Homo sapiens: one gene and its partner. The protein of the gene in region 1 interacts with the protein of each later gene in a biochemical or structural test. Each region holds a gene or a part of one and is shown on either strand. Other genes may lie near its edges.

The links. The genes of interacting proteins can lie anywhere in the genome.
Region 2: the proteins of ARID5B (region 1) and PHF2 form a complex in vitro, tested with the Homo sapiens proteins (one study listed by IntAct).

The regions. Positions count from the first base shown.
Region 1 is NC_000010.11:62,086,597-62,093,698, reverse strand, and holds part of ARID5B (AT-rich interactive domain-containing protein 5B), read right to left. Parts: intron 2,838-7,102; coding exon 669-2,837; 3' UTR 1-668. UniProt on the Homo sapiens protein: Transcription coactivator that binds to the 5'-AATA[CT]-3' core sequence and plays a key role in adipogenesis and liver development.
Region 2 is NC_000009.12:93,656,584-93,663,583, forward strand, and holds part of PHF2 (lysine-specific demethylase PHF2), read left to right. Parts: coding exon 1-12; intron 13-1,561; coding exon 1,562-1,653; intron 1,654-2,927; coding exon 2,928-3,017; intron 3,018-3,608; coding exon 3,609-3,977; intron 3,978-6,323; coding exon 6,324-6,443; intron 6,444-6,933; coding exon 6,934-7,000. UniProt on the Homo sapiens protein: Lysine demethylase that demethylates both histones and non-histone proteins. Enzymatically inactive by itself, and becomes active following phosphorylation by PKA: forms a complex with ARID5B and mediates demethylation of methylated ARID5B.

The sequences.
Region 1 (7,102 bases):
CAAAAGCAATACCATTTAATAAAAAAAAAAAAAAAAAAAAAAAAAAAGACGAGAAGGAACTGGGAGAAAATGGAACTACCTGTATATAAATTAGGTGAGCAAACAGTGATACAGGTAGTTTTAAGAAGCAAATATATACAGTCAATTTAACAGTGTTTACTTCTCTGGATTGTTTAATAGTGTCAAAATGAAAGATCTATTGAAGTTTCACTATACATTGCATTGATTGAACCTTGGAGAGTTTTATGAAAAAGAGGGGCATCCCTTGCCATCTGTTTGCCAGTCTTCCTTGCCCCTTCCTTTGAAATGCCTGCCTCTTTTTTGCCCAGATTGTTTCCTGACCATCCGAACTCAGATGGGGTCCTCTAAGTTCTTCCTGGATATTCACAAATCCCTTCACAAGGCCCACGTGCGAAGTGAATGATCTGGAGGTGCCTGGGCATCTGTGTTGGAAGGGAGTCAAGACTCACCAGCCAGTCAGTTTGTGGGCTAGAGTTGTCCCACAAAAATCAGGCATGTTCACCTCCCCTCTGGGCCCCTACAGCTGGGACTGATCATAGCCTCAGATTAGAAGAAATACTGACTTCTAACTCTATAAGCCAGCACTCCTGGGTAAGGAGTGAAGCTCTGTTGGCCATGCCGCTTTGGACTGCTGGGCAGAGCTGAGCCTACAGTTTTGTACTGGGGTGCACGGATGACAGCTGGGAAGATGGAAAGGCAGCTTGAGGATTTATAGCAGCTAAAGGGTAAATGCTGTTATGCAAAAGGTCCCCATATGAACTTCCTACAGGTGTAGCCGCAGCCAAGTGTCTGTACAGCTGCTGAGAATTTGTCGGTGATGTAAAAATTCCTCTTTGCATCACAAGCGAGTGGAAAGCCAGGGGCTGCATGAGTGGAGAAAGCACAGTCTGGTTTTTCAAGTACTGCAGAGAATGAGAATACCCAGCCGGGAGCCTGGAGTTGAGGCCCGAGTTACACAGGCTCCCGGAATACAGACCTGGGAAGATAGGGGAGGAGAGGGGAAGCTTGTGGCCTTCTGATCCGCCCCCGGAATGCCCACCGTGCGCTGCTTTGCTGCCTTCACTCTCCTGCTCAGAGGCCTTCTCCTTCCCAGAGACCTCCTTGGATGGGTCTAAGGGAGACACTGCCCGGGCCTTTTTCCCTGCAATCACAAGGTCCAAATCCTCCAGGCTGCGCTTGATCGGCCGCGCCGCCCCAATGTTCTGCGGGCTCATTTTCCGGTGCAGGATTGGGTGGACCATGCCTTCCATCTTCCTGAAATTCTCCAGTCTCACATGGTGAGGTTTTCCTGATCTTGAAAGCGATTCAGGGTATTTTTTAGGGCCTGACATGGTCATGGGTGATACCCGACAGGCTTTGGGGTGACAGTCTCGACTCTGGCTGCCTAAGACCTGGAACTGGGAGATGCCTTTGCTCTCCTGGGGCCCTGTGGTGGAATGAGCCAGGCCCAGGACCTTGCCGGTAGGTTTGTGCGGGTTCTTGGGAAGGCTCAGATCTGTAGGCTGATCATCCGTAGGGGCTTCTGCTGCCGCCGACTTTTTGTCTTGCAGGTGCAGGGACGTGAGATAATTTACATGGAGCTTTTCTTGGTGTCTGTGGGAAGGAAAAGAACTGTTTTCCGATTCCCTGTACATGTCCCTGGAAGGGTATTTGGATGTCTGTTCATTATGAAGATGGTGCTCGGTGTGTCTGTAGAGGCTATGGAGATGAGGGGACGAGTAGAAGTCAGCCAGGAAGCTAGGCATGTGGGAATGGGGGAGGGCCCTTTTCTCTAAGAGTTTATCCTTGCCCTCCTGAATTTCTTGCTTCAGGACGTAGGAGTCAGCAAGGGGGTTAAGGTGATGCTTGGAGAAGCTGCAGCGGTGGGGATCTGATCGACTCAGTTTCTCATGCTTAAAGATGTCATTGATGGTCTTTCTCTCTTCCGAGGGCTTGCTTCTGAAACTCTGGACGTGCTGAATCACTGATGGCCGGCTGACCGCCATATGGTCAGTGCTTTGGCCATGGTGGGTCTGGGACAAACTGGAACACAAGTCATCCCTAGCAATCAGTTTCTTTTTGCTGATCAAAGGGGGTGGGGAGCCATAAGGGTAGCTGCTGGAGAGGCTGGCCCCACTCACTTGGGACAAAAGCTTTTTCTTGGCCAGTGGGGACATGATGCCTGGGTTGCCCCTAGAGTAGAGCAGGGGCGTGTAATTAAGTCCATGGTTCTCGTTCATGGGCCCAGTCAGGTCTTTGTCTTTGAACATGTCAAACGACTGGACCACAAGGACCTTTGGGGTCTGCTTGAGCGCATTGTGGATGTCGTCACTGCCCAGCTGGTCCACCTTCACGGTGCAGTTGGCAATGTAATCTGCCATGGCGGGCAGTTTGTCATCCTCCGTCTCATTCTGGTTTGCCAGCGGTGGCTGTGTGGTGGGGAAGCTGGGGAAGGATGCTTCTTGGGGTTCACTTTCAGGGCTCTCTGTAAAACAGCACAGTTTGGATTCTTGTTTTGAGTCCACCAGGGCACTAGGAGAGGTGAGTGGCTGTTTGCTGGCCCCAGGGACCAAGGCTGAATCTTTTTCTGGGGCCAGAGGAGCACTTGGGAGTGGAGGTGTGGGCCCCTTCTCTCCCGCCTCCTCTGCCACCTTCTCACTGTTGGAACCTTGGTCTGTTTCGTTGTCCTTCTCTGGGTCTACTCTGGATGCCAGGGGCTTCGCTGAAAATTCCTGATACCCTTCTATTTTTTTCTTCATGTCTGCTGCTGGGAGAGGCTCAGGGATGCTTTTCTGGCTTATTAAAGTCTCTTGTTCTTTTTCTTGCTCTGATGAAACCTGGTAACATATTTCAAAAGACAGTCAGAAGAAAACCAAATACACAGACATGTTTTGCTATGAAATAAAATATTCCACACAGCAGTTTTACTTGAAAACAGGCTTGTCAATCAGCTCGTGAAGTTTCTGTAAAGCTTTATTACTCCCCAATCATGGCTCTAAACAAAGAAATCTAAATTACAGAAACATTAGGGGAAATATGCATATTCGCTTCAGTCCCTTATGAGATACCTATCAAAATAGCAAAGTATTATGTACTGATGGTATACAATCATATCACTCCTTGATTCTAATATATAGTTTAATTCTAAGGTTGTCTTCTTGTCAAATCAGTCAATTATCCAAATGGGTTTTAAATTACATGTTGTGTTTTATGATACTCCTGAGAAAGATTTTTTTAAAGCATTTCTCTTTCAAAAATCCAACCAACCCCATGTTAACGACAAACAACAAACCTATTGCAACTCCCTGCTTTCCTTAACAGGGCAAATCCCTTCCCAATGTATTCAATATGATGCACTGAAGATTAGCAATGCATAAGTGTTAATAATTTCTACTCAGGGCCAGATGATATGCAGATAATGCTAAAATATTGACAAAGTATGAAGATTTCTTGGCAGCCTGTCTACCAGAGGGACAGAGGAGACTAAGTCCTTCTAGGTTGCAGCAAACTACATTTCTATTAAAGCCCAAAATGAAGTTGTCAAAATTCAGACAGTCAGTGCCACCGCAAATATAGCTTTGCTGTTGAATGAAATAAATTATAGTCAATGAGACAGACACACTCCTTATGTGACCCTACTGACAGAAGTTGTGGGTACCAATTCGACTCATTTACTGCATTATGCAGCCATATAAACTTTGACCTTAGGAGGTCATTTTAACTTTCCATCTATGACCCAGCTGACTGACAAGCCCTTTCAAAACTGCTGTCATTCTGCCCTGACATGTCTTAGCAGAGCAGTCACAAAACAGTTGTACTGAGCTGGTATTCTTCCCCTCCTTTTTCCATCTCATCCCTTGAACTTTGTTCTTCTCTGTTAAGAAAAGATGTGCCTGTAATCTCAGCACTTAGGGAGGCCGAGGCAGGCAGATCACCTGAGGTCAGGAGTTCAAGACCAGCCTGGTCAACATGGCAAAACCTCATCTCTAGTAAAAAAACAAAAATTAGCCAGGTGTGGTGGTGGGTGCCTGTAATCCCAGCTACTCAGGAGGCTGAGGCAGGAGAATCGCTTGAACCCCAGAGGTGGAGGATGCGGTGAGCCGAGATCATGCCATTGCACTATAGCTTGGGCAACAAGAGTGTAACTTTCACAAAAAAAAAAAAAAAAAAGAAAAAGAAGGAAGGAGGGAGGGAAGGAAGGAAGGAAGAAAGGAAGGAAGGAAGGCAGGCAGGCAGGAAGGAAGGAAGGGTGGGTCTGCCAATTAGCATCTTTGGGTAAGATTGAGGATGCTGGTTTAGGAATACGTGGGAACAAAAGTTTTAAGAAATCACACCTATTTCACAGGTATTTTTCCTTAAATCCCTTTAAAAAAAAAACCCTGAATTTTAGGGACATGTTATACCTAAGAGACTTTGCTTATCATCATTATTTCTTTTTATTTTTTGTACTAGTAGCTGCCTTTTCCAGTACAAATATCATTACTTCTTCTACATTAATAATCATCACATTGGTCTCTTGAGCTTATACATGACACAAAAATAAAGACAAATGAGTATGGCAAGGGAAAAAGGCAAATTGCATCTAATTGTTAGTTTCTTATGGGGCTATAGTTTGACGCAGGGCAATGAGGGATACTCAGTCTCATTGAAGTTTCTATGATGTAGAACTGCAGTTATATCAGAGTCCCATGCTTCGGGTTGTAAAACAGGTTTAGGAAGTCTTTGAAAGCTAGGCAGAAAAAAGTAAAGGACTTTTTTTCTAGTAAGACATTTTATGATCTGCTTAGTATGTTAAATGTTAGCTTCCCACCATGCAACTTGCAATCCCATTACTTGAATATAGTGGATTCAACTAGAGGGAATTTCTCACCCTTTGTATCTCCATTGAGTTCACCGCTTCATATTGAAAACACCAAAAACTAAAAGCGATGAAAACAATAAAATCCAAACCAAAAACCCCAAATAGAGTTAATGAGAAAAAATACACCTGGCTAATAACATGGTTCTATGTTGGAGGTGAGAAGTGATTCGTATTATAAGGTCAACCTTGGAGAGGGTGGAAGATTCCATGAGGTTTAGATAACCTCATCATGACAACTTTCAAAACCTGAGACACTTACAGCTCCCTGAAGGGAACAGTTGCAGCCTACAGGAAACACAAAGCCTAACAGCTTTCAGGGTTTCTATGGACTCCAGGGAGTAAGGCTCCACTCTTGGGCATGGTCATCATCCAAGCTGACAGGCTCAGTGCATAGGCTAAAGATTCCTCCTACCATTCACAAACCAACCATTTCAAACTTAATCCCCAAATTGGAGATATTCAACGGTCAGCTGTCCCCTTGGTCCTCAGTTTGTCCCCTGGTGTTTTGTGTACATATGGCAGCTAATAGAACACACTCATCTGAAACCCTATAATAAATCACCAGGCCAAAAGTATCAAGGAAAAATGGAATGTAAGCATGCACTTGGAATTTCCTTGCTTTTGGCCATTTATGTTGCAAGCTTGCAGATGTTGAGAAATCTGCATCATCTGGCCAGGGACGGTGGCTCACACCTGTAATCTCAGCACGTTGGGAGGCCAAGGCAGGAGGATCATTTGAGGTCAGGAGTTCAAGACCAGCCTGACCAACATGGTGAAACCCTGTCTCTACTAAAGATACAAAAATATTAACCGGGTGTGGTGGTGCATGCCTGTAGTCCTAGCTACTCGGGAGGCTGAGGCAGGAGAATTGCTTGAACCTGGGAGGCGGAGGTTGCAATGAACCGAGATTGCACCACTGCACTCTAGCCTGGGAGACAGAGAGAGACTCTGTCTCAAAAAAAAAAAAAATCTGCATCATCTTCTTCCTCCTCCCCCTTTTTAGTTACTAGAGCTTAAAATAATTATGAAACCTAATAAAAACAAAAAACCCACAAATTTCTAATCTTGGTATCAATACTATTTTCTTATGTAAGAGTCAGCTGGGTAAGTTGATGTCTAGATGGGAGGTTGGTGCGTGTTGTACATGTGCAATTTAAACCAGTGTTTAATTATGGAGCCTCTTATGTGTTCATTATAAACCTGATTTTTTAGGGGGTATTTAATATCAGCATCAAAATTCCCTCTGGGGTTGAATCCTAGAACATGCTGTCTCCAAATGTGGCTGCTCAGTTTTTTTTTTTTTTTAATGGGCAGCAGCGTTTTTTATTATTCATGTTGAAATGGAGCCCAGATCAGCCTACATGACTGGCTACATGCTGGGGGTAATGGCTTCTACCAAAAGGCTGTTGGGGGCTTAAAAAGTGCAGAAACTACCTGTTAATATGAAAAATAATAATGGTTTCATAGGAACCATTTCAAAATTCCCCTATAAATAATATGCACTTAAGATCTTTTTTCCTTTTTTTTTTTTTTTTTTTTGAGATAGAGTCTCTCTCTGTCACCCAGGCTGGAGTGCAGTGGCCTGATCTCGGCTCACTGCAAGCTCCGCCTCCTGGGTTCACGCCATTCTCCTGCCTCAGCCTCCTGAGTAGCTGGGACTACAGGTGCCCACCACCACGCCTGGCTAATTTTTTGTATTTTTAGTAGAGACGGGGTTTTACCGTATTAGCCAGGATGCTCTCGATCTCCTGACCTCGTGATCCACCGCCTCGGCCTCCCAAAATGCTGGGATTACAGGCGTGAGCCACCGCGCCCGGCCACACTTAAGATTTTCTTAAATTGGTCTCAACCCATGGCTGTTGCACAGAAATCAATTATGGGAGACAAACACTTCTCTAAAGTTTTCAGGAGAGTCTTGCAGGATACAGCACCACAGTTCCAAGGTCCCCTTTCCTGGACCTCCAAAGCATTTTTTTTGAGACACGGCTTCACTCTGTCACCCAGGCAGGAGTGCAGTGGTATAATCACAGCTCACTGCAGACTTTACCTCCCAGGGCTCTGGTTATCCTCCCACCTCAGCCTCTTGAGTAGCTGGGACCACAGCGGGGCACCACCATGCCTGATATTTTTTTTTTTTTTTTTTTTTTGAGATGGAGTCTTGCTCTGTCACCCAGGCTGTCGTGATCTCAGCTCACTGCAAGCTCTGCCTCCCAGGTTCATGCCATTCTCCTGCCTTGGCCT
Region 2 (7,000 bases), on another chromosome or scaffold:
AGGCATTCAAAGGTACTGGTCACTCCGGGGTGGGCGTCCAAGCCTGGGGCTCTTGGCTGTGGGGGCAGCCAGACCTGGTCAGGGCTGACTGTCTGGGTGTGAGTGCCGCCTTCCTGTGGCCTGAGCAAGTCCTCTTGGGACTCAGACCCCTGGGGCTCAGTTTCCCCATCTGTATAATGCAGGACTAGATTGAACAGGCTGGGCCTCTCCTTCCGATTGGACTGTCCCTTGTTTTAGAACGAACACTGGGCTGTGGGTTGAGAGGGGTGAGTGTGCATGGCCTCAGTGCAGGTATCAATCACACCTGCTCCACCCTCCACACTTGCCTCCATTGGGAGGGTGGAGCCCTGGCTCTGTCACCAGCTGAGGAGTGGGTGCGAGTGGGCTCTGGGTCCCCTTAGGCTCCCTCAGGGGCCTGGCAACTGGACCGTGAGGCAGGCTTGTGGCTCGGTGGCCCTCTGTGGATGCACTTTGGCATCCCCGGGCCGCCCTTTTCTGTCCCAGGTCCTGCCTGGCCACACCCTCAGAGATGAGAGCAGGTGGCTCCTGCCAGCCACCACCCTGTCCAGGCCTCCAGACTGCCCAGCAGCGTGAGGGAGCCTGCAGGAGAGTTTGCATTTATGCGTGATTTCCTTTCTCGGTGTGGTTGCTCTTAGTTGCTCTTTTTTGGTTCTAATAGCAGCCAAGAGCTCTTTTATGCAGACCCTTTGTACTCTGGCCCTAGTTTGAGAAGGTAAAATGGTCCTTAGTCACGGCTGGCCAGGTTGCGGTAAGATTTTCCCACTGTTCCCCAAATCTGGAGCCCTGAGCTTGACTCTGGCAGAAGGAAGTGCCCAAGATGGGAGTCTAACCCTGCCCTCAGGGGACTGGTGCCAGGGAGGCAGGGATCAGGGCAGCACCTGGGAAGCCACCCCACAGGGCCAGCCTGACTACTGGCCAGCCAGGCCACTGTGGCCATATCCTCTCTGCCTGACCCTCCCTCTCTGAGTGGACGACAGTTCAGTTGGCCCCCAGGACTGAGAGGACCCAGGGAGCTGCCATGGTCCTGGTGCGTCAGAGCCCTGGAGCCCTGGAGCCCTCTTCAATGGGAAGAGGGAGGGGAGGCCCACAGCAGGAGCACACCTCCCAGCTGAAATGTAGTTGGTCCCTACACTGTGCTAAGGGGCGCCATGAGGTGGGAAGAGATGCTTGGGGATGCCTGGTGTGGGCCCATGGACAGCCTGTGGCCTGGGTCCTGGCATGACTGTGTCCCCTTGCTCAGGTAGGGCTGGGGTATTGGGCAGAGTGAGGAGAGCAAGGCAGCCTGTGTTAGGGGCCTGGAGGGTGAGACAGTGGGAGGATGGTGGGAGGGCCAATCTTTCCTCAAGCAGGGCAGGCCACCAGGAGGATGGGCGCCCCCAGGTTCCAAGAGGAACTGTTGGCAGTTGAGCTGGTGGCCATGGGCGGAGGGAGACCTCTGGAAGGCTGGACCTGGCATCCCCCGGTCTGGCTATGTGGCTGGGCATGAAGGCACCTGTGGGCAGCAGGCACCCACCCACCTCACCCAGTGTCTCCTTCCCAGGCTCTCACAAATCTGGGAAGCAGCTGCCCCCTCATCTAGTCCAAGGAGCTAAAATTCTCAATGGTGCTTTCCGATCGTGGACGAAGAAGCAGGTAGGAATCATGTCACAAATGCCCTAGGGCAGGAGAGCAGTGACAGGCGGGAGGACCTCCCTGGAGACCCAGCAGCAATGTCCAGGACTTGTCCTGCTTCAGTGAGATCCAGCCTGGGAAGGACGGTGGTGCTCCCCTGCCTGGCTTGGCCCGGGGTGTGCCTTTGCCCCAGACACCCCATGGGTCCGTCCCCTGCTGTCCACTGATTGGGCCACCTGAGGGCTGGGGGAGGACAGATGTAGATGCAGAGCCCCCTCCATCAGGGGCTCACAGCTTAGTCACAAGTTGGTGGGAGGAGGGTGACCAGGTGCTGGTGTGTCCTGGGAGGAAGGTGGGTCTGTGGGTGGGGGACAGATGGCCTATGGTGGGATGACACTGTGTGAGCACAGAAAGGCCTGGAACCTGGTGGGGGCAGGGAAGGACTGGGGGAGTGGCTGGCCCCAGGACAGGGAGTGCTGGGGACACCCTGTCGGCTCCTCCTGGCTGGCCCTGGCATCAGCTCAGAAGCTAAGCTGCCTGATTGCAGGTGCAGCACCCCAGCCACCTTGCTCTGTGACCCGGGCAGCCCCTCCCTGTGACTCTTACCGATGACCATCCTGTGCGCGCCCCCACAGAAGCCACTTACTGTGTTGCTTAGCATCTTCCCTTGGTTTTGGCTACAGAAGGGAGGGGAAGGTCTGGCCCAGCCTCGAGCACCCTCTGGGACAGTGTTTCCTACTGGGCTCATTGTGCAGAGGTACTATGCCCACTCTTGAGGGAGGAGGACCCTCTCCCAGGCCAGAGAAGGCCAGTGGAGATTTACAGGAAGCCTTCAGGGAATACAGGCTGCAGGGAATACCATGTGTAGCCTGCCTTTCTCATGGGTGGGCCAGGCAGGAGAGGCAGCCAGTGCACTCCCAGGGCCATCCTGCAGCCACCACCTCCGTCAGGCCTCAAGGCCCAGGGCAGTCCAGGGCGCCCCTGCCACCTCACCTTAGCCATGTGGCTGGGTGGAGTGGCCTCTGACCAGGAAGAAGGGATGGGACCCTTGTCCATTCCATAGCCTGCTGGTGGTGGCCTCAGGCAAGCTTGTCCTCTCTGGTACTTGGTTTGTCCACCTATTGATGGGGGCTCACAGCAGAGACCTCTTGCCAGGGCAGAGTTTGGCTCGGAAGCCCCTCGCCTCATGCTCATCTGAGTGGCTCGGCAGTCAGGCGACAGCCTGCAAGAATGCAGGGGTAAGTCAGGACCACGGGAGGTGTCTGGTGCTGACCCTGGGTCCGGTTGTCCTGCAGGCTTTGGCAGAGCATGAGGACGAGCTCCCGGAGCACTTCAAACCTTCACAGCTAATCAAAGACCTGGCCAAAGAGATCCGGCTCAGTGAGGTGGGGCCGTGTCCAGGTGCTGGGCTGGACCCCTGGGGATTGGGGAGGGCCCACCTGTCTTTCTCTGGGTCCAGGGGCCAGCCTAACACAGAGCTGCCAGGTCTGGGAAGGCCAGTGCCCCAGATGGTCCTCCTTGCACTTTCCTGGGCAAGCTTGCCTTTGTGAGGGCTCAGGGTCCTAGGTCTCTGGCTGGGTCTGTGTCCTGGTGTGAGTGTGTAGGGACTGAGAAATGGCACCAGCCTCTCTGAAACTCCCATGGGGAGGGCACTCTGTGGGAGGAGCCCCTGACTCAGCCCCTGCAGTCCCAGCTTGTGTGTTCCTGGATGAGCCCTCAGCCGCTGTGCTGGGGTAGGACAGAAGAGCCTTGGGGAGAGCAAGTGACTCATGGCATGTCGCAGGTGTGAGTGTGTCACACAATAGCATGGGTTGGGTGTGAGTGTGTCACATGATGGTGTGGGGTAGCTGAGCCTTTCTGGGCTGATAGTTCCCCGCCAGCCTGGCACTGAGTGTCTCCAGCATCCTGGTGTGTGGACCGTCTTGGGCCACAGTTTGGCAGAAGCAGCATGTGACCCTCTCCTTTCTGTATCCCAGAATGCCTCCAAAGCCGTCCGACCGGAAGTGAATACTGTCGCCTCGTCAGATGAGGTGTGTGACGGGGACCGGGAGAAGGAGGAGCCCCCGTCTCCCATTGAGGCCACCCCGCCTCAATCCCTCCTGGAGAAAGTGTCCAAAAAAAAGACTCCCAAAACTGTGAAGATGCCCAAGCCATCCAAAATCCCCAAGCCCCCGAAGCCCCCTAAGCCCCCAAGGCCCCCCAAAACGCTGAAGCTCAAAGATGGAGGCAAGAAGAAAGGGAAGAAGTCCCGGGAGTCAGCCTCACCCACCATCCCCAACCTGGACCTGCTCGAAGCCCACACCAAGGAGGCACTGACCAAGATGGAGCCGCCCAAGAAGGGCAAGGTGGGACCCCCTCACCCTGACTCCCCACCTTATCACCAGAGGTGCTGCAGCATCTCTTGTGGGCCAGTCCCATGGAGATAGCTAGGGCCCATTGTCCTTGTTCCCCAGGGGCCCCTGAGAAGATGTGGGGGTCTGGGCTCTTGCTGTGGGCTTGTATGCCCAGAAGATGCACTTCCTTGCCTGGTCCTGACCCAGTCCTGCAGCATCCAGGCCCAGACCCCCCAGAGTGGACAGGCTTTGCCCAACAAGCCACAGAGCAGTGGGCCTGAAGAGGGTCCCTCACTGAGGAAGGCAACACAATGTGTGTGTGCTGTGGCAGAGGTGGCACCCAAGAGGGCCACCTGGTGGAGGAGGCATGGTGGTTTTCCAGAAGGGGATGTCTAGTTTAGGTTTCCTAGCCAGATGAGCAGTTGCCAGGGGACAAAGAAGCCCTGGGTCCTCCCTGGGGCCAAGACATTGAGGTTGAAACCTGAAGGTAGATGAGGTGTCTGTGCAGAAACAACAGGGAGAATGCCATTGGAGGGGAGGGGGTTCAGGGGTGAGGACAAGAGCAGGGTGGCCCTGATAGTCTGAGCCCCTGTGGACAGTGAAGAGATGGGCCCAGCCCTGAAGACCCACTCTGACTAGAGGATCTTAGGTCTGGGCTTCAGGGACCATGAACCCCTGAAGCACCATTGAGTGTGAGTTTCTGCCAGGAGGAGGTCGTTATCTGCTTCCTGGGGGCCAGGAAACTTCAGGGCCGGCATCACAGGGGTGTAGTGGGACGCTTTTGTGTTCTCTTTCTCAGGGCAAGCATGAATGAATGCATGAGCAAATGAATGGATGGCTAAATGGCTGGATGAATGGGTGAATGAATGAATAGGTGGATGAATGGATGGATGAATGGATGAACAGACGGATGGATGAATGAATGAATCAGTGAATGGCTGGATAGATGGATGGTTGAATGGATTAACGAATGGATGAATAGATGAATGAATAGATGGCTACATGAACGAATTGATGGATGGGTGGATGGATGGATGAATAAATGGATGGATGGGTGAATGGGTGGATGGATGGATGGAAGGACGAATAAATGAATGGGTGGGTAGATGAATGGAATAATGAATGAATGGGTAGATGAATGGATGAATGGATGGATGGATGGAATAATGAAGGGATGGATGGATGAGTGGGTAGATGGATGGATGAGTGCATAAGATGGATGGGTAGATGGATAGATGAATGGATGCATGGGTGGATAGATGAAAGAATGGTTGGATGGTTGGGTGGATGGATGGATTGATGAATAAATGGATGGATGGATGAGCAAATGGATGGATGGATGGAATGGATGGGTAGATGGATAGATGAATGAAAAAATGGATGGATGGATGAATAAATGGATAGATGAATGGATGGAAAGGTGGATGAACAAACAAATGGATGGGTGGATAAATGAATGGATGGATGGGTAGATGATGAATGAATCAACAAATGGTGAGTGGATGGATGAGTGGATGGATGGTTGGGTGGATGAATGGATGGATGAACAAATGGGTGGGTGGATGAATAAATGGATGAATGAATGGATGGATGGATGGATGGATAGACAGAGGAATGAATAGATGGATGGATGAATGAATGGGTGAGCAGATACATGGATGGATAGATGAACAAATGGATGGGTGGATAGGTGGGTGAATGGACTGATCGATGGATAAATGAATGGATGGGTAGATGGATGAATGGGTGGATGATTGAGTGAGTGGATGGGTGGATGAATTAATGAATGAACAAATGGATGGATGGATGAATGGATGAGTGGATGGGGAGATGGATAAATGGATGAGTGGATGGATGGATGGAAGGATAGATGAAAAAATGGATGGATGGATAAATGGATGGGTAGATGGATAAATAAATGGATGAGTGGATGGATGAATGGGTGGGTGGATGAATGGGATGAACGAATGGATGGATGGGTGGGCGGATGGATGGATGGATGGATGGATGGATGGATGGATGGATGAACAAATGCATGGTGCATGGATGGATGAATGAACGAATGGGTGAGTGGATGGATGGATTGGTGGATGAATGAACGGGATGAATGAATGGATGAATGGGTTGGCAGATGAATGAACGGATGGATGGATGAACGAATGAATGAATAAATGGATGGATGGATGGGTGGGTGAATGGGTACATCGATGGGTGGGTGAATGGATGCGTGGATGGGTAGATGGATGGAGGCTTGAGCTGCAAGCACATGGGCCAGAAGAAGACAGGGAATCTGTGGCTCAAGAGAGTTCCACCAGCCCTCTATGTCTGCCTCTGGGTCACAGCAGCCCTTTTTTCTAGGCCACAAAGAGTGTCCTGAGTGTGCCCAACAAAGATGTGGTTCACATGCAGAATGATGTGGAGAGGCTGGAAATTCGAGAGCAAACCAAGAGCAAGTCAGAGGCCAAGTGGAAGTACAAGGTGAGAAGTGCACATATGCATGCACACGTGTGTGTGTCAGCTTGGTGAGTGTGAGCAGAGGTGAATCTGTGAGGCCCTGTGTGTGTGAAGGAATGTGCAGACATGTGTCTGCTTGTCCTGAGTAGGTAGTGCTGTGGGGTGTGCTTACGTGGGTCTGAGGTGTGTGTGACCACCCATGGACTACATCTTCCTCTGAGTTGGTTGGGATGCAAGAGGTTGAATGTACACCCTGTATGTTGACAGTGTTTCCCTTCACGGTCCACACACTGGTTTTCATTCCCACTCCATGGGGGTCAGGCAACATCGAGGCACTGAGTCCATGGGGTGCAGGCCCCTGAGCACCCCGCAGTGGCCCGGGTGGCCACCAGAGCTATGGGTGACTTTCCTTAGTCGTGTTCCCAGTAGCTGCCTCTTCTCACTGACACTAATTGGGGTCCTGACCCCCCACTTCTGTGTGGGGCTCAGGGACGGCCCTGGTCTTGCTTTTCAGAACAGCAAACCTGACTCCTTACTGAAGATGGAAGAGGAGCAGAAGCTAGAGAAGTCGCCTCTAGCTG